Linked DNA regions of Homo sapiens: region 2 is linked to region 1. Evidence: fine-mapped expression QTL. A gene starts in region 1. The other region holds a variant in brackets. All regions are shown on one strand. Distances are from middle to middle.

The links.
Region 2: its variant is fine-mapped to the expression of C5 in whole blood (INTERVAL, PIP above 0.99).

Annotation. Positions count from the first base shown.
Region 1 is chr9:121,047,123-121,055,122 of GRCh38, reverse strand. It overlaps C5 (complement C5), which reads left to right and starts at 4,848. Exons shown (of 41, transcript NM_001735.3): 1 at 4,848-4,941. The coding sequence starts at 4,877. It overlaps LOC124902261 (a long non-coding RNA gene), which reads right to left and starts at 2,266. Exons shown (of 3, transcript XR_007061753.1): 1 at 2,018-2,266; 2 at 1,551-1,796.
Region 2 is chr9:121,071,612-121,084,103 of GRCh38, reverse strand. It overlaps CNTRL (centriolin), which reads right to left and starts at 9,149. Exons shown (of 44, transcript NM_007018.6): 1 at 9,037-9,149; 2 at 3,626-3,798. It also overlaps a transcript of C5 not described here. RefSeq lists silencers at 8,745-8,884, 9,005-9,064, 9,689-9,885 and enhancers at 9,185-9,574, 11,928-11,977. The variant C/T (reference allele first, on the strand shown) is at 8,480.

The DNA.
Region 1 (8,000 bases):
TCAGCCCAAAAAAGCAGGACATCTCCAAGCAGGGACTTAGTAGTTATAGGTGGGTCTTAAGGATTCTTCAGTTGACAATTGGTTGAGAGGGTTAAGCTATTGTCTAAAGGCTTAAAGTCAATAGTAAGTAATGCTTGAGTTAAAGGAGGTTGTGGGGTCCAAGGTTCTTGTTACGTTGATGAATCCTCATAGGTAGCAGCCCTCCGAGAGAATCAATGGCAAACGTCTGTCTCTTTGCAGACCTTTGAGATGTCAGACTCTCAGTTCAACTCTGCCAGAACTGGGAAAAGCCTAGAAAGGGAAGGCCTGGTTGCATTAATGGAGATTATCTACAGATGCAAATCTCACTCACAAAAGATAGCTTTGCAGGGCCATTTCAAAATATGTCAAATAAATATATTTTGAGGTAAAATATTTTTATTCCCTACAGGGTCTGCTATCTGTCATGTGATGCTATATCAGAGTCAGGTTGAAAAGCAAACCATATTACAGCAGGTTTATTTTTATTTATTTATTTATTTTGAGGCAGCGTTTTGCTCTCGTTGCCCAGGCTGGAGTGCAATGGCACGATCTTGGCTCACTGCAACCTCTGCCTCCCAGGTTCAAGCAATTCTGCTGCCTCAGCCTCCTGAGTAGCTGGGATTACAGGCACCTGTCACCACACCCAGCTAATTTTTGTATTTTTAGTAGAGATGAGGTTTCACCATATTGGCCAGACTGGTCTTGAACTCCTGACCTCAGGTGATCTGCCTGCCTCAGCCTCCCAAAGTGCTGGGATTACAGGAGTGAGCCACCACGCCCGGACTATACCAGGTTAACTTTTAAAACTCATTTAATGATATTTTATGGTTTGTAGGGTGTGATTCCTTGCATGAATGGCCTGAGGTCTTGTTTATAATTTGGTATCTTATTGCCACAGAGTCTGTTTTGTCCGTCTTATGATATTTTAACTTGAATGCTGGTCAGTTGTGCCTAAACTCCAAAGGGAGGGGGTATAACAAGGCATGTCTAACCTCCCTTCCCATCACGGCCAGGAATTCAATTTTTAAGATGTTTCTGGGGTCTCTTTGGCCAAGTGGGAGTTCATTCAGTCAATAGGGGGCAAGTTGGGGGTGCTTAGCATTTTATGTTTAGTCTACACACTTTAGTCCTTGTGTCCTGACTGCCACTCAAATAGACTCAGGACCTCAGACCACTTTAGTTAGCCAGTGGTGAAGCTAGCCATGACCTGGGTTTCTCCCTCTGGAGCACAGAATTCTCCTCTGTCCCAAGGCCTGCCTAAATGCACTGTCAGAATTCTAGGCGCCTGCAGAATTCTGTCCTGTGTTATGTTCCACCATGACGGGGCAGCACTGACTTCCAGTGCAAAGTCCCACACTCACTTTGCTCTCTCTCCTCCAAGCACACGGATTCTCTTTCCTGCTGTGCAGCCTGTGGTTGGAGGAGGGGTGGTATAGGCAATACAGGGAGATCTTCCCCCCTACCCCCACCCTATCTTCAATGCCTCTTTCCTTATCATTACGGTAAAAGTAGGCACTGTGATCACTCACCTGATTTTATGGCTTTTATGAAGGTGCTGTCTTGCGTGGATAGTTGTTCTATTTGGTGTTCCTGTGTGGAGAACTATCTCGGGGGGGGTTCTATTCAGCCATCTTGCTCCACCTCCGCCCTCTCTCCAGTCAGTCTTTAAACTGCTGGCACCGAAGCCTCCAGTGCCTTTCTCCTCTATATCCCATGGAGAGTTACTGAAGTAGTTCTTTTTGGATTTCAGTTGGCCTTTTAGTAGAGCCTTTCTCCTAAAGGATTAAAACGTGAGACTGCGGGCTTGAGCCAAAAAGCAGTCAGAGGGACAAATACTGGGTTTTACTTAGAATAACCCACCTGCCTAGTGCCAGCCTACCACTCTTGAACAAAACTTGTATGATTCCCGTGTCTCCATTTAGAATAATTTAATTCTGAGGAGACGCCTCTGTTTCTCCACTGGCCTCTGGACATGGAACAGGCACATGAAAATTACCTGGGGCAGCTATGGGTCACATCACCTCTCTTACTCTAGCCAGCCAGCAGGCACTTGAAGTTCGCAATCTGATGGGCTGAATTTCTGAAAACAATAACAAACACAATGTCACTTATTTTTTATTCTCTAAATTTACAACCCATTAATATACCTCCCTGTAAGCTGTCTGATTTTGAAAATTATACATGATAAAATCTTTTTATTATACATAAAAAAGAGTTCTGTAGTTTGTATTAATAGAAAATTGGTGTCCAGACATATTTTACCAAGTAAGTACAAAATAACTAAAGAATATCCATTTGAAAGATACAAAATTATTATCCTGCTAGGAGCACCTTGGTGTCAAGGTGACTTCAGGGAATAATCAGGTAATTCAGCTCCTTGGCCGGAGTGAAGAATGGAATGTTGAGGCTGGAGAACTAAGCAGGGCTCAAGAGGGGCCTGGTGCACTAGGCTAGGTCATTTGGGCTCAATCATGAGGGGACAATTGAGGCAGCATTAGCAGGAAGGTCAGGTGACCACCAAACTTTCTGCCAGATCTGAGTTTCTTCTCTTTTAGAAATGCAGTATTTGTATAAAAATGAAAGGCTTACCAAAGGTCACATTTTAAATTATAAAGAAAAAAAATCATCTTTTTTTTTTTTTTTTTTTTCTGAGATGGAGTCTGGCTCTGTTGCTCAGGCTGGAGTGCGGTGGCGTGATCTGTGCTCAACCTCCACCTCCCAGGTTCAAGTGAATCTCCTGCCTCAGCCTCCCAAGTAGCTGGGATTACAGGCACCCGCCACCACGCCTGGCTAATTTTTGTATTTTTAGTAGAGGCGGGTTTTCGCCATGTTGGCCAGGCTGGTCTTGAACTCTTGACCTCAGGTGATCCACCCACCTCGGCCTCCCAAAGATCTGGGATTACAGGTGTGAGCCAGCGTGCCCAGCCTCAAAAGTTCATCTGTGAGCCACATTTAGAAGGTAGATAAAAAATTTTGACTAAACACAGCTTAGAATCTATAAATTGTTAAACTTCAGTTCTGTTGAGAATCTTTGAGATCCATCATTCTCTAAATGTTTTCTACCAGAGAAACAGGACAATGGCTTGCAAATATTGGTTATCAGTATTTACTCTATAGCTCAAGCAAACAAACTTATTTGCACTTAAAATACAAATATTACCTACCTTGATTTGAGTGTTGTTGTTCTCTCTTAAATTTCATTTCCCAAAAATGATGGCAAAAGTACTGTTTGTTTTAACTTGACCCATCTTTTGCAACCCAGCTTAATCATTTCACAGATTCCCTTTTGAAATAAATGGGCTAGATGATCAGACAATAGTGGCAAATGTTTGTCATTTCAATGACATATGCAAGAGATACCTTTAGTGAAATTTGTATATCAAATTTCCCTTTGTGCTCCTTTTTTCCCTAGTGAATTCAGCATTAAAGTGTTTATAAATATTTTTGGTTTATTATTTATTAATTCAAAGCAAAGAATGCCAATGTGACCATAAATATCTCATTTATATATCATAAATATCTCATTATAGAAATATGTTTAGAGACATCTGTTTTATTATTTTAAAGAAGAGTACATATTATATATTAAGGTAAAAATAGTACTAAAAAAGAGAAGGTAGTAAATAAAAAAATTCTAATGAACATAAAACATCATAAAAATTAACTTAATTAAAAATCAGCCAGGCACAGTGGCTCATGCCTGTAATCCCAGTACTTTGGGAGGCCAAGGTGGGTGGATCACCTGAGGTCAGGAGTTCGAGACCAGCCTGGCCAACACGGTGAAACCCTACCTCTACTAAAAATACAAAAAATTAGCTGGATGTGATGGGACATGCCTGTAGTCCCAGCTACTTGGGAGGCTGAGGCAGGAGAATGCCTTGAACCTGGGAGGCAGAGGTTGCCCTGAGCCAAGATAGTGCCACTAGACTCCAGCCTGGGCGACAGAAAGAGACTCTGTCTCCAAAAAAAAAAAAAAAAGTATAAAGATAAAATTTTAGTATATTGTGAATTAATTACTAGACTCAATTGTTATAGGAAGCTTTGTTTTTCTGGAGCTCTTATATTAAAATTATTAAAATCCTCACTGAAAAGTATAACATGTGTTTTCTTTAAAAGAAAGATATTCTATATCTGAATAAAGACAAACTTTGAACGAGTGGTATATGCCTTAATAAATATTGGAGAATATCTATTCTCCAATACTTAGAGAATGACGACAGCATCCTCCACATGGCGTTTTCATTGCCAGTCACAACTTTCCTCCACCTAGTGTTCTCTAGACTGAGACAGACCAAGGAACAATTCCCTAGACCTCCTTTGCAGAGCTAGGTTATGCTCAGACCATTTGCAGCACCAAGGACACTGCCATTCAGGTCACCAAAAAAAGATCATCTTGTGAGCCCTGTCTAAACCAGGCCCCTTCTAAAATCATTTCAGTGTGAAACTGAGTCCAGGTGGGTCTTCATCAGTATTAGAGTGGACCTGCCAGATGTATGCTTGCAGATGATGCAACATCAAAGCAAATGCCCTGGGCAAGAGAAGAAAGGCCAAAGCAATGGGCTTACTGGTTTCTAGCTTTGAGCCACTCTTCATAGTGCCAAATTCCCATTTTAGGGTCCCTTTATTTGTATTAATAAAAATAAATTCCCTGGGTGTAAGTTCCTGTAAAGTACTCCCTATCTGTATTCCTGGGCATGAAAGGGTGTTTTAGTTCCAATTCTAGTTTTCCCACTTAGAGGTTCACCTTTCTGACATTAATAATTAACCAGATTATCTGAATTCTTCAAGTTCAGTTTATTTAAAAGGAGACTATCCTCAAAAGTGTTATATCCGTGGTTTCCTGCTACCTCCAACCATGGGCCTTTTGGGAATACTTTGTTTTTTAATCTTCCTGGGGAAAACCTGGGGACAGGAGCAAACGTAAGTAAAACAAGCTATCTTCATTTTTCAATGCATCTTAGTTATGACGAATGAAGAGTTAAATTTAACAGATTCTGTTAACTTGAAAATAACTTGCTACTTCTGAGAACAGCAAGTGAATAGTATCATCTCTGAATGAGAAAGTCATGGAAGCATTTTGATTTGATGAGTAGCTAACAACATGACAGCTTTTATGGAATTGTTATTTATTAAAATTTACGTTAAGTGATTATTCAAATTCCTCTTCAAAAAAGCACAAAAGAAACTCCAGATAATAAACTTTCTTGACATTTTTTGCTTATTTTAACTTGGTGTTTAGTTTTCTTTGTGTTTTTCATAGACTATACACAGTTAAACCAGGGTTATTTAGGAGTCAATCTAATACTGTGATCTGAAAATCTGTTGTTGTAGTGACTTCTACCATACATTTATGAGCTGACTTTTCACAATTTTTAGTGTCATTATTGAGATAATATGCATTTTAAGTAATGTTTTAAAAATAATGATCTTATATCTAGAAATATTTTAATACTGAAAAGTAACTGCAGATCATCTAATCAAACCTATTCATTTTATATATGAGAATAAGTCCAGATAAGGGAAGTGACTGACCAAAGGTCACAGTTCTAGAGAGAGAGAAACAGGATTTTTATTAAGGTCTCCTGTTTATCACTTCAATTTTTTTCATTTTGTCATAAATGTATACATGTAAATATATTATATATAAACACATACTTAGGATGTCATTCTTTTTTAGCACCCTCGTATTTCTGATCTGTGATCTTTTTACATGGCCACAAGCACTCAACTACCTTAGCATCCTGCCTTTATTCTTTTTGAAAGACGAGCAGCTAAGGCTTAGAGAGACTGAAATTAAGTGACTTCAAATTGGTGGCAGAACTAGGGCTAGGACCTGGGTTCCATGATTCTTGTCCAGACTTATTCTGAATTCTTTCTACTAGCCCTTAATAAAAATTATTTCCTCACTTTCTCTGAAGAAGTCAGAGTGTACCATTTACAACATGGCAATCAATCACTTTAATTAATTGGTTGATTGATTGATTCAACAAATATTTATTGAGCATCTAAACATATGATAGGCACTGCAGATATAGCAAACGGTAAGACAATTCCTAGAGCTTGCATTCTAGTGGGAGAAGCAAGTAATGAATGAATGAACCAATGAAAGAATGTGTAAGGTCAGGTAGGTAGTATTATGAAGAAAAAAATAAAGCAGAGTATGAGAATTAAAAAATAATTATGGGGCACTATTTTAAAATGTGGCCAGGAAAGGTTCTCTTAAGGAGGCTGCACTCAAACAGAGCCTGAAGGAAGTGAGGAAGCAAACCATGCAAATATTTGAGGAAAGAGCATTCCAGATAGAGGCCAAAATAACATTCTTGCCTCTCTGCAAGCTCCTGCTCCTCTGCAGCAATTGAAAGACAAAGAAAACTATGAAATTATTTATATGGATAGATTATGCTACTGATAAGTCAATAAGAACCAAAATCTTTATAAAGGGTGGTTCCAGAATATTCTTTTAGGGGCTTCTAAACACTATGTATTTTTGCTTGACGGCTACCATCACATAGACCAGCAGTCCCCAACCATTTTGGCACTAGGGACAGGTTTTGTGGAAGACAATGTTTCCATGGACCAGGATTGGGGTGGGGATGGTTTCAGAATGAAACTGTTCCACTTCAGATCATCAGGCATTATATTCTCATAAGGAGCTTGCAATCTAGATCCCTCGCATGTGCGGTTCACAATAGAGTTCATGCTCCTAGGAGAATCTAATGCCACCACTGATCTGACAGGAGGCAGAGCTCAGGTGGTAATGCTCCTTTGCCCCACTGCTCACCTCCTGCTGTGTAGCCTGGTTCCTAACAAGCCATGGACTGGTATTTGTCCATGGCCCAGGGGTTGGGGACCCCTACCATACACAATTCAAAATTAAAGCAATACTAAACTTAAAAACATAAAGCTTCTATAAATACTGAAATTAAAGTAGCTTTATATCCCTAAATTTTTCTAATTACAAAACTCTTTATAAATTCCATTTAGTACAACAGTTGAAAATGTTAATTCTGGAAACGGGCTGCTCAGGTTCGATTTCTAATTCTATAATTTGTGAATTATAGAATTCATAAATCCTATATGTGTGGCCTTGGGAAAATTAATTAGCAGTTTCTTCACCTTAAAATTGGAGTAATAGTTCCTCACAGAGTGGTTGTAATGACACAATGAGTTTATACAAATAAAGTATTCAGAATAGTGCCTTATCACAGGGCAAAATTTCAGTAAATATATCTTATTATCATAAAAACTGAACTCCTCTCATTTTCTGCCATCTCCTACTAGGCATGTGGGGAAGGGGAATTCAGATGATGGTTGGAAATCTGGAAATTCTTTCCTCTCTTTTGTAATTTGCCTGTAAGTGGATCCAAATTAATTGTAATGCAGGATAACTGTCAGATGCTTTAAAGGATTTAATTGCTGATAAATTAATTCCATTGTTACTAAAAACTTCCTGCTTTTACCAGACTCTTAAAATGTCACAATGTTGGCAGAAGCCTGGAATAATTCTGCCAGGTGGGGTGGTGGGTGCCCTCCAAGCTTGTTGGGCCACTTGAATTAGTCGATCACTATGCCCTTTTGGGTTAAAACACTTTTTTTTCCTATGTAATAGCGTATGTAGTTCTCGCTATTCAAATTAGATACTCTTGTGATATACACTTAGTAATCCAGTTTATATTTGTAAGTTTTTAAATAAAATAATTTTTAAAAATCACTCAAAAGCATGTATAGACTCACTTCCATTATTGTATAAATCACATGAAAAGTAAAAATAAGAGAACAGTCTATGGTTGTGAATAACATATAAACTTGACCTCAACTGTACACATAACAACTGAGAACTCATATAAAGGCCTCCCCCATTTACTTACAAACCGTATAACCTTAGCCAAGTTAGCCTTTTACCACTTGCAAAGTACGAATAATGATAGTACCAGCATCATTGGCTTATTGTAAAAATTAACAAGAGCTGTATGTAAAGT
Region 2 (12,492 bases), 27 kb before region 1:
AGAAATTATTTTTTAGAAAAAAAATTTAATGAAATAAGATATTAGGTTAAAGTAGTTTTTAATCCAAGGATTTAGAGTAGCTCAAGTCTTAATGCTATATAAATTGATATTAGAAAGGGATAGTGGAATGACAAACATCTTCATATATGTGATATTGTGAAATACATACAGTCACGCATCACATAACAATGTTTTGGTCAACAACGGACCACATACATGACAGTGGTCCCGTAAGATTATAATAAAGCTGAAAAATTCCTATAACTTAGTAACATCATATATGTCATAATGTCATAGTGCTACACATTACTCACATGTTTGTAGTGATGTTGGTGTAAACAAACCTACTGTGCTACAAGGTGTACACAAGCCTGGCACATACAATTATGTAGAGTACATAGTACTTGGTAATAAATGTCCGTGTTACTGGCTTATGTATTTACTATACCATACTTTTCATTGTTAGAGTGTACTCCTTCTATTTATTTTTTAAAAAATAGTTAACTATAAAACAGACTCAGGCAGGTAGGTCCTTCAAGAGGTATTCCAGAACATAACACTGTTATCATAAGAAATGACAGCTCCATGCATGTTATTGCCCTTGAAGACCTTCCAGTGGAACAAGATATGAAAGGCAGTCATACTGATGATCCTGACCCTTACAGGCCTAGGCTAATGTGTGTGTTTGCGTCTCAGTTTTTAAGAAAACATTTAAAAAGTAAAAAAGTTTTTAAAATAGAAAAAAGCTTATAGAATAAGGTTATAAAGAAATTAATTTTGTACAACTGTACAATGTGTTTGTTTTAAGCTAAGTTTTACTACAACAGTCAAAAAGTTTTTAAAAAGTTTAAAGTTTATAAAGTAAAAACATTACAGCAAGCTAAGGCTAATTTACTATTGAAGAGAGAAAAAATGTTTAATAAATTTAGTGTAGCCTAAGTGTACAGTGTTTATAAAGTCTACAGTAGTGTACCGTAATGTCCTACACCTTCACATTCACTCACCGACTAACTGGGAAAGAAACTTCCAGTCCTGCAAGCTCCATTCATCTGGTAAGTGCTCTATACAGGTATACTTTTTTTACATTTTATACCATATTTTTATTGTACTTTTTCTATTTTTTTTTTTTTTTTTGAGAGGGAGTCTCCCTCTGTCGCCCAGGCTGGTGTGCAGTGGCACGATCTCGGCTCACTGAAACCTCCACCTCCTGGGTTCAAGCGATTCTCCTGCCTCAGCCTCCTGAGTAGCTGGGACTACAGGCACGTGCCACCACGCCTGGCTAATTTTGGTATTTTTAGTAGAGACGGGGTTTCACCATATTGGCCAGGCTGGTCTCGAACTCCTGACCTTGTGATCCACGTGCCTTGGCCTCCCAAAGTGCTGGGATTACAAGTGTGAGCCACCACACCCAGCCCCTTTTCTATGTTTAGATGCACAAATATTTACCATGGTGCTACAACTGCCTAAAGTATTCAGTACAGTAACATGCTGTACAGGTTTGTAGTCTAGGAGCAACAGGCTATCCTATACCATCTAGGTTTGTGTAAGTACATTCTATGATGTTTGTACAATGATGAAATTGTCTAACAACGCATCTTACAGAGCAAATTCTGTCATTAAGGGACACATGACTGTATGTTAAATTAAACTAAATTTTGCCTGAAAGTGCCTCTGTACTTTAAGTCTCTACATAATGAACTGCAACCTAACTTAGAAGGTAAACTAACTGAAAGCCTAACTTAGGAGTATGTTTTTGTAATAGCTGAGTCTCAGCCAATCATAGCAGCTGAGCTTCAATCACAGGCAGTCAAGTGATCGTACCATGTTCAAATAAGGTAAACACAGAGCTATAACCAATCAAGCTATTTCTGTACCTCACTTCCCTTTTCTATCCATAAATGCTGCCTGCCTACATTGCAGAATGGATCTCTCTGAATCTCTTCTGGTTCTGAGGGCTGCCCAATTTGTGAACTATTCTTTGTTCAATTAAACTGTTAAATTTAATGTGTTGATAATTTCTCTTTTAACCTATATATTTGATGTTCCTCCTGTTTCCTATCACATAGCTCTTAAAACCTTTGGGTTCTCCACAGTGATAAGAGTGTCTTTCGTTTACTAATAAGATGACTGGTGACACCCAGACAGCTTTGGGATGGGGGCCAGTCACCAGAAAGACTAAGGCATGTTTAGAGGGTTGGGACTTTAAGCCCAACCCCACAACCTTTAAGGAGGGGAGAGCAGCTAAAATTGATTTGATAACCAGTAGCCAATGATGTGAGCAATCACGCCTACATAAGTAAGCCTCCATAAAACCCCAAAAGGACAGGGTCCAGAGAACTTCCAATTAGCTGAACATGTGGAGGTGTCTGGAAGATGGCATGCTGGCGAGAGCATGAAAACTTCATACCCCTTTCCACGTACCTTGCCCTATGCAACTCTTCCTCTGGCTGTTTATTTTGTAATATCCTTTATAATAAATGGGAAAATGTAAGTAGTATTTCTCTGAGTTCTGTGACCCACTCAAGCAAATTAATTGAACCCAAGGAGGGGGCAGTGGGAGTCCCAATTTATAGCTTGGTGGTCAGAAGTATAGGTGGCAATCTACTACTTGTAATGGGCATCTGAAGTTGGTGGCACTCTTGTGGGACTGAGTCCTTAACCTGTGGGATCTGATGCTATCTTCAGGCAGACAGTGTCAGAATTGAACTGAATAAGAGGACATGCAGCTGGTGTCCACTGAAGAAGTATCTGGTGTATGGGGCAACAACCCTTACATGTCTGATGTCACAAGTATTGTACTGTGTGGTACGGCAGTAGGAAGAACATTTTGAGTTTTTCATATCTCTATTAAAAGATAATATAACTTCACAAGCATATGGGTACATATAAGCTGTGATTATACAGAAACTTCCTGCAAACTCCCAGCTTTCTAACAGCTGGCCATAAAGAAATTAAGACTCTCATTCCATAGGGGTCCTACCCAATACCCAGGAGGAAGGAATGCTGCACAGAGAGGCCAAGAGAAATCTGGAGAGGTAGGTGTTGCTGAGTTTCCTCACTCAGTCTATTAGCGTTAGATCATACCCATTTTGTCCAATCCTATTTCTATACAGCTGTCCACACTTCACTAATCCTAAGCATAAAAACGGATAATTTTTTCTGCATTTTTTGGGTCTTCATTCTGAAGGCTCCCATGACACATAAAGCTTTGATCGAATAAATTTGCTATGCTTTTCTCTAGTCAACCTGTCTTTGTTACAGGGGTGTTGGCCATGACCTTTATGATGGGCCAGAAAGGAATTACTCCCTTTCCTCCCCTACAGAACTTATACAGTATATAAAGGAGAGATTACACTAATATAATCTATTAATATATTCAATTTTTGGAATTCCTCTTTGGATTCTGCTTTCAAACTAATTCTTAAGTCTCACAAGAAAATCGGGTCCATCGCTTCAGGTACACTTTGTTTTTATTTTCCCAGTTTGATCACTAACCTTACTCAGTAAATTTGACTCCATATGAATTTTGTCTACTTCCAAAAATTTAATGAAAAGATGATGATTGAAGTTAATTCTAAAGAATATCATACTAGTGGCTAACATTTACTGAGGGCTTACCACGCACCAAATATTGTGATATTTCGTCAGGCACGGTATGTATACTTGCAGTCCCAGTTACTCCAGAGGATGAGGCAGGAGGATTGCTTGATCCCAGGAGCTCCAGGCTACAATGTGCTATGATCAACCTTGTGACTGGCCACTGCACTGCAGCCTGGGAAACACAGGGAGCCCCTGTCTCTAAAAAACAGACAGACAAATATATGTTGTGATAAGCTCTTTATGTGTATCATCATATTGAAAGAATTGAATACAACAACTCTATGAGATAAGTGTTATTTCCCATTTTACAGATGAAGATCTTAAATAATTTGTCCAAAATTCCTTAACTAATTGGTTTAGCCAAAACTTGAAATGTGATTTAATTCAAAACCCATGTTTTTAATGACCATGTCATATAGCTATCTGAGTTTCCTGGAGTCTAGATTATGTTTCCTTTGTTCTCTATGGCCTAGCATGATGCCATGGGCGGCAGGTGCCTGTAATCCCAGCTACTTGGGAGGTTGAGGAACAAAAATCACTTGAACTGGGGAGGTGGAGGTTGCGATGAGCCAAGATCGTGCCCCTGCGCTCCACCCTGGGCAACAGAGTGAGACTTCATCTCAAAAAAACAAAACAAAAAAAATCCTGAAGGAAACCCAGAAAATTTTATACAAAGAAAGGATCTCTGATATCATGATCCGGTCTCTCAAGGTGAGTAGTTTGAAAGGAATAAAAACCCCGTCTTTTTTTGTTTTTAAAAAGTTGATTATTATTTCACATACATTACAATATAGCCAAATGCCCCATTCCAATAGCCTCATTCACTACAGGTTAAGCACTCCAAATCTGAAAATCTGAAATATTTAAATATAAATGTAAAAAATATAAACAAGTATAAAGCAAATATTCCAAAATCCGAAAAAATCCAAAATCCAAGACACTTTTGATAGCAAGCATTTTGGACAAGAGATAATCAACCTGTACTTTATTTTTATTTTTTTGGAGGCAGCGTTTCACTATGTTGTCCAGGCTGATCTCGAACTCCTGAGCTCAAGCAATCCTCCCACCTCTACCTCCCAAAGTGTTAGGATTACAGGCATGAGCTACCACACCTGGCCTTCAACCTGTACTTCAAACTGTGAACTTAAATGTATCTGTACTTTTTCCTTCATTTTCTCATATTAAACTATACATATGGATCAGAAAAACTCCCCCAAGTTACATAACTGCTATTTATGCCATTTCCACAAGGCTTTTTGGTCTAAATTTCAAGCGTGGTAAACAATTTTTGTGCCTTATAACACAATTTTGCCATGGAAAAAAGTCTTTTAGTAATTTTAATATTATGAAATACATACTTAGTCTTAGTCCCTTTTGCTATCGTAAGTGTCTTTTTGTATACTAATGAGTTGACTGATGGCTAGCCACCTCTAGGCAGCTTCAGGATCGTGGCTGGTCACTAGAAAGAGGGAGGGGAGAGGGGCTAAAGGTTGAGTTGATCACCAATGGCCAATGATGTAATCAATCAGGCCTACATAATGAAGCCTCCATAAAAAGTTAAAAGACTGGGTTTGGGGAGCCTCCAGAAAGCTGGACACAGGGAGGGTCCTGGAGGGGAATCCACCCAGAGAGGGTGTGGAAGCTCTACGCCCCTTCCCACCTGCCTTACGCTATGCATCTTTTCACCTATATCCTTTGTAATATCTTTTATAATAAACCAGTAAATGTAAGTAAGTGCTCCCTGAATTCTGTGAGCTGCTCTAGCAAATTAATCAAACCCAAGGAGGGAGTTGTGGGAACTCTGATTTATAGCTGGTCAGTCAGAAGCACAGGTAAAACTGAGGCTTACAGTTGGCATCAGAACTTGGGGGCAGTCTTGTAAGCCAGCCTTCAACCTTAGGGATGTGACGCTGTCTCCAGGTAGACAGTGTCAGAATTGAACTGAACTAGAGGACAGTCCTGTGGTGCCCACCACTGCAGAACTAACTGCTTGCTTAATGTGTGGGGGAAAATCCTACGGAATCATGTTGTGAGCGTATAGTGGGAGAAATTGAGTTTAATCTGTAGTCTCAGTAATACTATTTTTTTCTTTTTTTGAGACAGAGTCCTGCTCTGTTGCCCAGGCTGGAGTGCGGTGGTGTGATCTCGGCTCACTATAACCTCCGCCTCCCAGGTTCAAGTGATTGTCCCGCCCCAACCTACTGAGTAACTGGGATTACAGGTGCACAGCACCACGCCCGGCTAATTTTTTTTATTTTTAGTAGAGATGAGGTTTTGCCATGCTGGCCAGGCTGGTCTCAAACTTCTGACCTCAGGTGATCCACCCACCTCGGCCTCCCAAAGTGCTGGGATTACAGCCACCATGCCCAGCCCTCAGTAATACTATTGATGCTGCTAAGCTGCACTGGCATTCTCCTTCTAAATAAGGATAATACTCTAAAATTTGAGAAAAGCTAAGAGGCATGTGCTTAGGTAAAATCTTATTCCTAATTAAATGGATTAAAAGATGACATTTATTATAGTATGTATAGTACGTAGTTGGCGTTTTTTTCCCCCCTGAGGCAAGGTCTTTCTCTGTCACCCAGGCTGGAGTGTAGTGGCATGCTCATGGCTCACAGCAACCTTGCCTTCCTGGGCTCAAGTGATCCTCCTACCTCAGCCTCCTGAGTAGCTGGGACTACAGGCGCATATAACCACGCTTGGCTAATTTTTTATTTTTTGTAGAGATGGGGGGTCTCACTATAGTTCCCAGGTTGGTCTTGAACTCCTGGGCTCAAGTGATCCTCCTGCCTCAGCCTCCCAAAGTGCTGGGATTACAGGTGTGAGCCACTGTGCCCAGCCTGTAGTTTTTACATCCTAATGATCAAGACCCTTTAGGTCTCACCAGACTATCATGAGGTCCTTTATTACCTCTCCTGATTAGTAAAAGTCAGGCTTACTCATTCATAGACTTAAACCCTTGGTTGCCACAGCTTCTGTAAAGCTTGGACACTGAAACAAGATAGACGTAATCAGTCTCAGAGAATAGCTAACTCAGTGAAGTGGGCTTAGGGGTTTACAGTGTTTGAGAATGGCTGGCATTATTTCTTAGGCTACTGCCTGGAGGTGGTAAATGCTGAATTATAATTTTAATGGAGAGATGAGGATGTAGTTTGATCTAGGATGTTGTTTGCAATCACATGAACAAAGACCAAGCAAGCAATGGAAAAATGAAGACAACTGAGAGGTAGGCTAGGGCGAGTAAAGGAGCAGGATAAAGAGAAAAAAAAAGCAAATAAAGTTCAGAGCTGCAGTTGTATTTTAAAGGCTGTCTGCAGAGCAAGAGAAAGCCATTGGAATGACATGATAATCAGAATCCTACGTCCAGGCAACAAAACACTACCCATCCTGCCACCTATAAACCCAGATAGTTGCTCTGATCTAACAATTCAGTCCATCACAGCTTAGTACAGACTGCAAACTCCACCTCCATCCAGCCTTTCCTAACCTTCCTAACTTCCCATCTTCTCTGATCTCCAAATAACGCAGACCTCCTTCTGTCTCTCTACAGACTCCCTAATATGCAAATACCCATCCCCATTTATTAACCCCCATATCCCTCTCCTTAGCCCTTTAATTGGATTTCAGTACTTTCCAAGTCTACTTCATCCCATACCCTCTGACCTACTGAAATACTTTTACTCCTTAATCTTCTCCTCCTTTCAAATATCCTGATTCCGATTCCTCTGCAAAGTCTCCAGCCATTTTTCTTTCCAAAGCCAATTCCCCCATTCTGTGCTGCCCACCCACCTCTGCCTCCCATTCTTCTTTATCCCATTCTGATTGCCAATTTTCCCACAAATTCTATCCCAGTTCCCTAACACAGTAATAGTCTCCCCCATTTCTCTATGGTTCTTTCCTGTGCCCAGACTCAACATTTCTCTATCCATCCAGACTTCCCAAGCTGCTCATCTCTCTTCACCCCAGAAAATACCCTGACATCCTAATGCGTTCCAATACTCTGACCTCCAATTACTCCCCTCCCTAAACAAAATACTCAAACCTCCATCCATTCCTCTTCATCCCAACCCAACTGCCTGCCTATTTGCCTTTCCATCCTAATACTCTAGCCCCCGTATCCTTCTCCATCCTATTAAAAGCCTGAATCCCCTCTCCCATCTCTCTTCTTCTGCTCAGATACCCTAAAACTCAAGCTTCCCATCTCTTTCCATTAATTATTCAATTTTATTGAGCAACTTTTATGTAGGAAGAACCATGCTAGAATCTAAGCTCAAGATGCAGAAGATTTTATCTCCCTATTACCCATGATCTCTGCACCAAGCAGTCTCCTTCATAGCATTTTATAACCATTATTTGTGAAACTACTTGGTTGTTGCCTGTTTCTCCTTCTAGACTATAAGCTACAAGAGAGCAGAGGTTTTGTCTGTTGTTCTATAAACAATAAATATTTGTTGACTGAAGGACTGTACTAAACACTTAGACAATACCAAATTTAAATCCTCAAAGATTTAGCTGTATAGGATCAGAATTATTAACCTGATTTACAAATGGCAATGTACCTGAACAGTTAAAAGCTTGGATTCTGGAACGAAACAGCCTGAGTTCAAATTCTGATTTTCCACTTACTGTGTGATCTTAGGCAAATTACTTAACCTCTCTGGTCCTCAGTGCTATCACTTTTTAAATGGGGATGATAACCTCATACAAGTTATTTTAAATTCTAAATGAGGTTAATACGTGCAAAGTGCTTAAAACTGGATCTGACAAATAGTGAACACCCAAAAATGATTCGCAATTATTTGGACAAATGAGGAAACATGATCAGGAAGGCTCAGACACATATCCAGGGTCACAGACCTGGTTAAGTTACACAAGGTGG[C/T]AGAATTGAGGCTTCAACCCAAGTTTGTCTGGCTTCAAAATTCTCTAGTCCCTTAACGAATATAACGGAAGTGTTTGTTCTTCCCCTTCTTTTAGCATTTCGTCCCCATATCCTGTCATCTTTCTCCACGCACTGTACTCCGTCCGATACCGTGACAACCCGTCAGGACGCCCAAACTGTCCTTTCTCCCGCTCACTCCCCACAGACAGCTGGCACATCCCAGCTCTCCCCTCAGCTCAGGTGGCAGGACCCACAACCTTCTGGGCGCCGCACCCTAACTTCCACACCTCCCCACACTCTGGTTCTTCATCCCCAATCGCCCCCGCCGTCCCCACCTCTTCCCATCCAAACCTCCCTCCTTCATCCACCGCCCCACGCCCGTTCCGGGCCCTCCCCTCTTTCCCGTCCAATCCCAATTCCCAGACACGCGCCCCCGCCCCGAATCCATCCCAAGCCGGCCCACACCACGCCCGGTCCGGGCCTTCCCGCCTTTGCCGCCGGCCCCCACTGCTCGGGCCGGATGCCGGGGAACGGGCTCGGCCAGGTCTGACGCTCACCGCCTAGAAGCCGAGCCGAGCAGTCCCGCAGGCTGAGGTAGAGCGGGAGAAGTTCGGGCTCTTTCCTCAGGGGCCCAGCGGCGCGGCAGCCATTTTGTTGTGTTGTGCCGGTTGCCGAGGGGCCGCGCGCGCGTGGTCGGGGCTAGTCTCAGCCACGCCCCTCTCCCTCTCCGGTACTGTTGGAAGGGACGCGGAGGCGTTTCCCGCCTCTTTTGCAGCCAGCGCGCTAGGATGCCGGGGAGTCTTGGGCGCGAGGCTTCCGGCCGCGCGGGGCCGACGGGATGCGGTGCCTTCGCCTTCGGATTGCGTTGCAGGTGAAGTGTCGGGTGCAGAGTCAGGGGGAGCCGAGGTTTCATGCGGCAGCTGCCCGCAGTGCTGTGGCCTTCGCTGAGACAAAGCTGCCGCCGCCACCCTCTGAAACACGGACACGCTTCTCAGGGCCTGTGTCCGAGGACGGCCTGAGGCACCGGCGCAGCGCCTCCCCGGCCTCCCCCACTTCTGATGCTTGCGCGCTATGAGCGAGTGTTCTTATCAGCACACTTCTCTCTGACAGTCGTATCTAAAGCGAATTCCCTCCAGGGACCGAACTGCCCAGGCTCGGATGAACCTCAAAGCGGACGCAGCCTGGGCTCCAGCTGTCGCGTGAGGTTCAGGGAGCTTGGGAATCCTAGGCAGAGGATGTTCCTCTGATTGCTACAAGGGAGTTAAAGCAAGAAGCACTTGCACAGGCTTCATCTGGGGCTTGCCCATGAGCACGGCGTTCACGACATGCATTCAACAGATATTTTAAAGAATTTAGCAGATACTGGGCTGGATGCTAGGGAAACACTGAAGTTTTTTTTAAAGTGTTATCACCATTGACGCCTTTCACTCCAGTAGCCTCCCGTTTTGAAGGTATACCCTGGACCATGTTACCATCAGAGGCTGCACCCGCTCCAGAAATCCCCAGTGCAATCGCTCCCCATCCTTGACTATAATCCTATCATCTTAGCAGCGTGCCTGCTCAAAAGACCCCTATGCCAGCGTATTTCTAAACTTCCTTGCGTCTTCCAGTCCCTTGTTCTTACCATTTTCTCGCGATCATTCTATCCTGTCTTCATTTCCTTTCTTCACTACAGAGTTTATAGGCCACCTGTATAACACTTTTAGAAACTCCCTCTCTCTCTGTGTCTCAGTTTCCTTATCTATGAAATGAGGTCCTTTTACCTATTAACACTTCCTACAGTTTTCCTGATAATTATAAAAGTGAATCCTGGCCGGGCGCTGTGGCTCATGCCTGTAATCCCAGCACTTTGGGAGACCAAGGTGGGAGGATCACTTGAGGTCAGGAATTCAAGATCAGCCTGGCCAACAAGGTGAAACGCCGTCTCTACTAAAAATACAAAAATTACCCGGGCGTGGTGGCGCACGCTTGTCATCCCAGCTGCTTGAGAGGCTGCAGGAGGATCGCTTGAACCCGGGAGGCGGAGGTTGCAGTGAGCCGAGATCGCGCCACTGCACTCCAGCCTGGACGACAGAGCGAGACTCCATCTCAAAAAAAAAAAAAAAAAAAAAAAGTCCAGTTTTCCTGATAATTATAAAAGTGAATCTCTGTGAAAGAACTTAGAACAGTGAGGGACCCATAGTAAGTTCTCAATATGTCTTAGATATTTCATTATTAGACAAAGGTTACCCAGAAGCAATACTTCTTTCTACGCCCAAAAGAAGAGTTTAGGCAAGGAGTAGGGAGGTGGGGAAGAATTTGCTTGGCAAAGGGAACAACTTGTGCAAACCCCGGAAGCGGGGGAAAAGAGCTTGGCAATGTGCTGAATGTTAAGTAATTCAGTGTGGCTGGAACAAAACATGAGTATGGAAACATGAAGTAGTTCAGTATGGCTTGTGCAAAAATCTGGGGTGGAGAAGCTAAATCTGGAAAAGGGACCATATTATAAGCAGTATTAGGCACTTCATTTTTCCTTAAGGCAGAGATGGCTTCACCTCTATAGGAAATTCAGGGGACGTCCAACAGGGAATAAGCTGCAATAAACATGGGGATGCAGATGTGTCTTTGATTTACTTTGATTTACTGATTTCCTTTTCCTTTTACTTAAATGTGATTCCCATTGACATTTAAGTGAATGGTGCTGTCCTCTCCCCAACTATTTACACGACACAGAACGAAGCCCTTGGAGTTTAAACGCAGAATTTTTGAAAAGCTCCACTTAAGAGGAGATTACATTCATTTTTTTTCTTTTCTTTTTTTTTTTTTTTTTTTTAATTTTTTGAACAGAGTCTGGCTCTGTCACCCAGGCTGGAGTGCAGTGGCAGGATCTCGGCTCAGTGCAACCTCCGCCTCCCGGGTTCAAGCGATTCTCCTGCCTCAGCCTCCCGAGGAGTTGGGATTACAGGCACGCACCACCAAGGCCAGCTAATTTTTGTATTTTAGTAGAAACAGAGTTTCACCATGTTGGTCAGGCTGGTCTCAATCTCCTGACCTCACGTGATCCGCCCGCCTCGGCCTCCCAAAGTGCTGGGATTACAGGCGTGAGCCACCGCGCCCTGCCGAGATTACATTCATTTTTAATCGAAGTTCAGGTGATATTTATTAGATTGGAATGTGTACGTTGCTGAGTTTCAGTTCTATTTGCATATGTTTTGACACCCATCGTTTCGGTTTCTTGTACCCAGAAACTTAGATTTATTGCGTAACCTCATTGCTGTGTCCCTCAAAGTCTGTAATGGTATTCACGTGGGATCCATTATCAAGCCGTGGTGTGCTGATGTAGTTCATTATCAATCATATTAGTATCAATTAATAGCCATCAAATATACATAAAAAGTCCAGAGGGTGGCGCAAAACACTTTTCTCTTGGGTGATCTCTCAGTCCGTATCCAGTTAGCCGCGGATGGGCACTCACCGGTCCCATGTTGCCCCCTTTTCCTCCTCATACAGACCTCTGCTGGTGTCTAGCATCATCTCTAACGAAGCTAGAGACTTCAAAGGAGAGACCTTTCTCCAGTTAATTTGAATATTAACTGTCTCTCTTAGCATGCTAAAAGAACTTCCTTCTCCAAAGCAGAAGTGAGAATACGAAAGTAACGCAGACAACTCGCGTTCCACACTATTTTTCTTTATCTGATATTATGAAGAATGTACTCTGAGTTGCATTTACAATACAAATATTAGCCACGTCAGGGTGACCAAGCTTTTACTCAGTCTTTTTTCCAAATGATAGCAAAGCTATTCTGTTTAAACTTCCCTCAGCTTTTTGCAACCCAGTTTAATCATTTTGCGAATTTGTTTTAGAGAAGAAACAGACTAGTTTGTCAGACAGGGATGGCAACTTTCATTATTGCCATTTCTTTCTGTGACTGGCCAGTGTGATTTTGTTGTTTTGTTTTTTAAGACAAGGTCTCACTCTGTCACCCAGGTTTCAGTGCAGTGACACAATCATAACTCACTGCAGCCTTGACTTC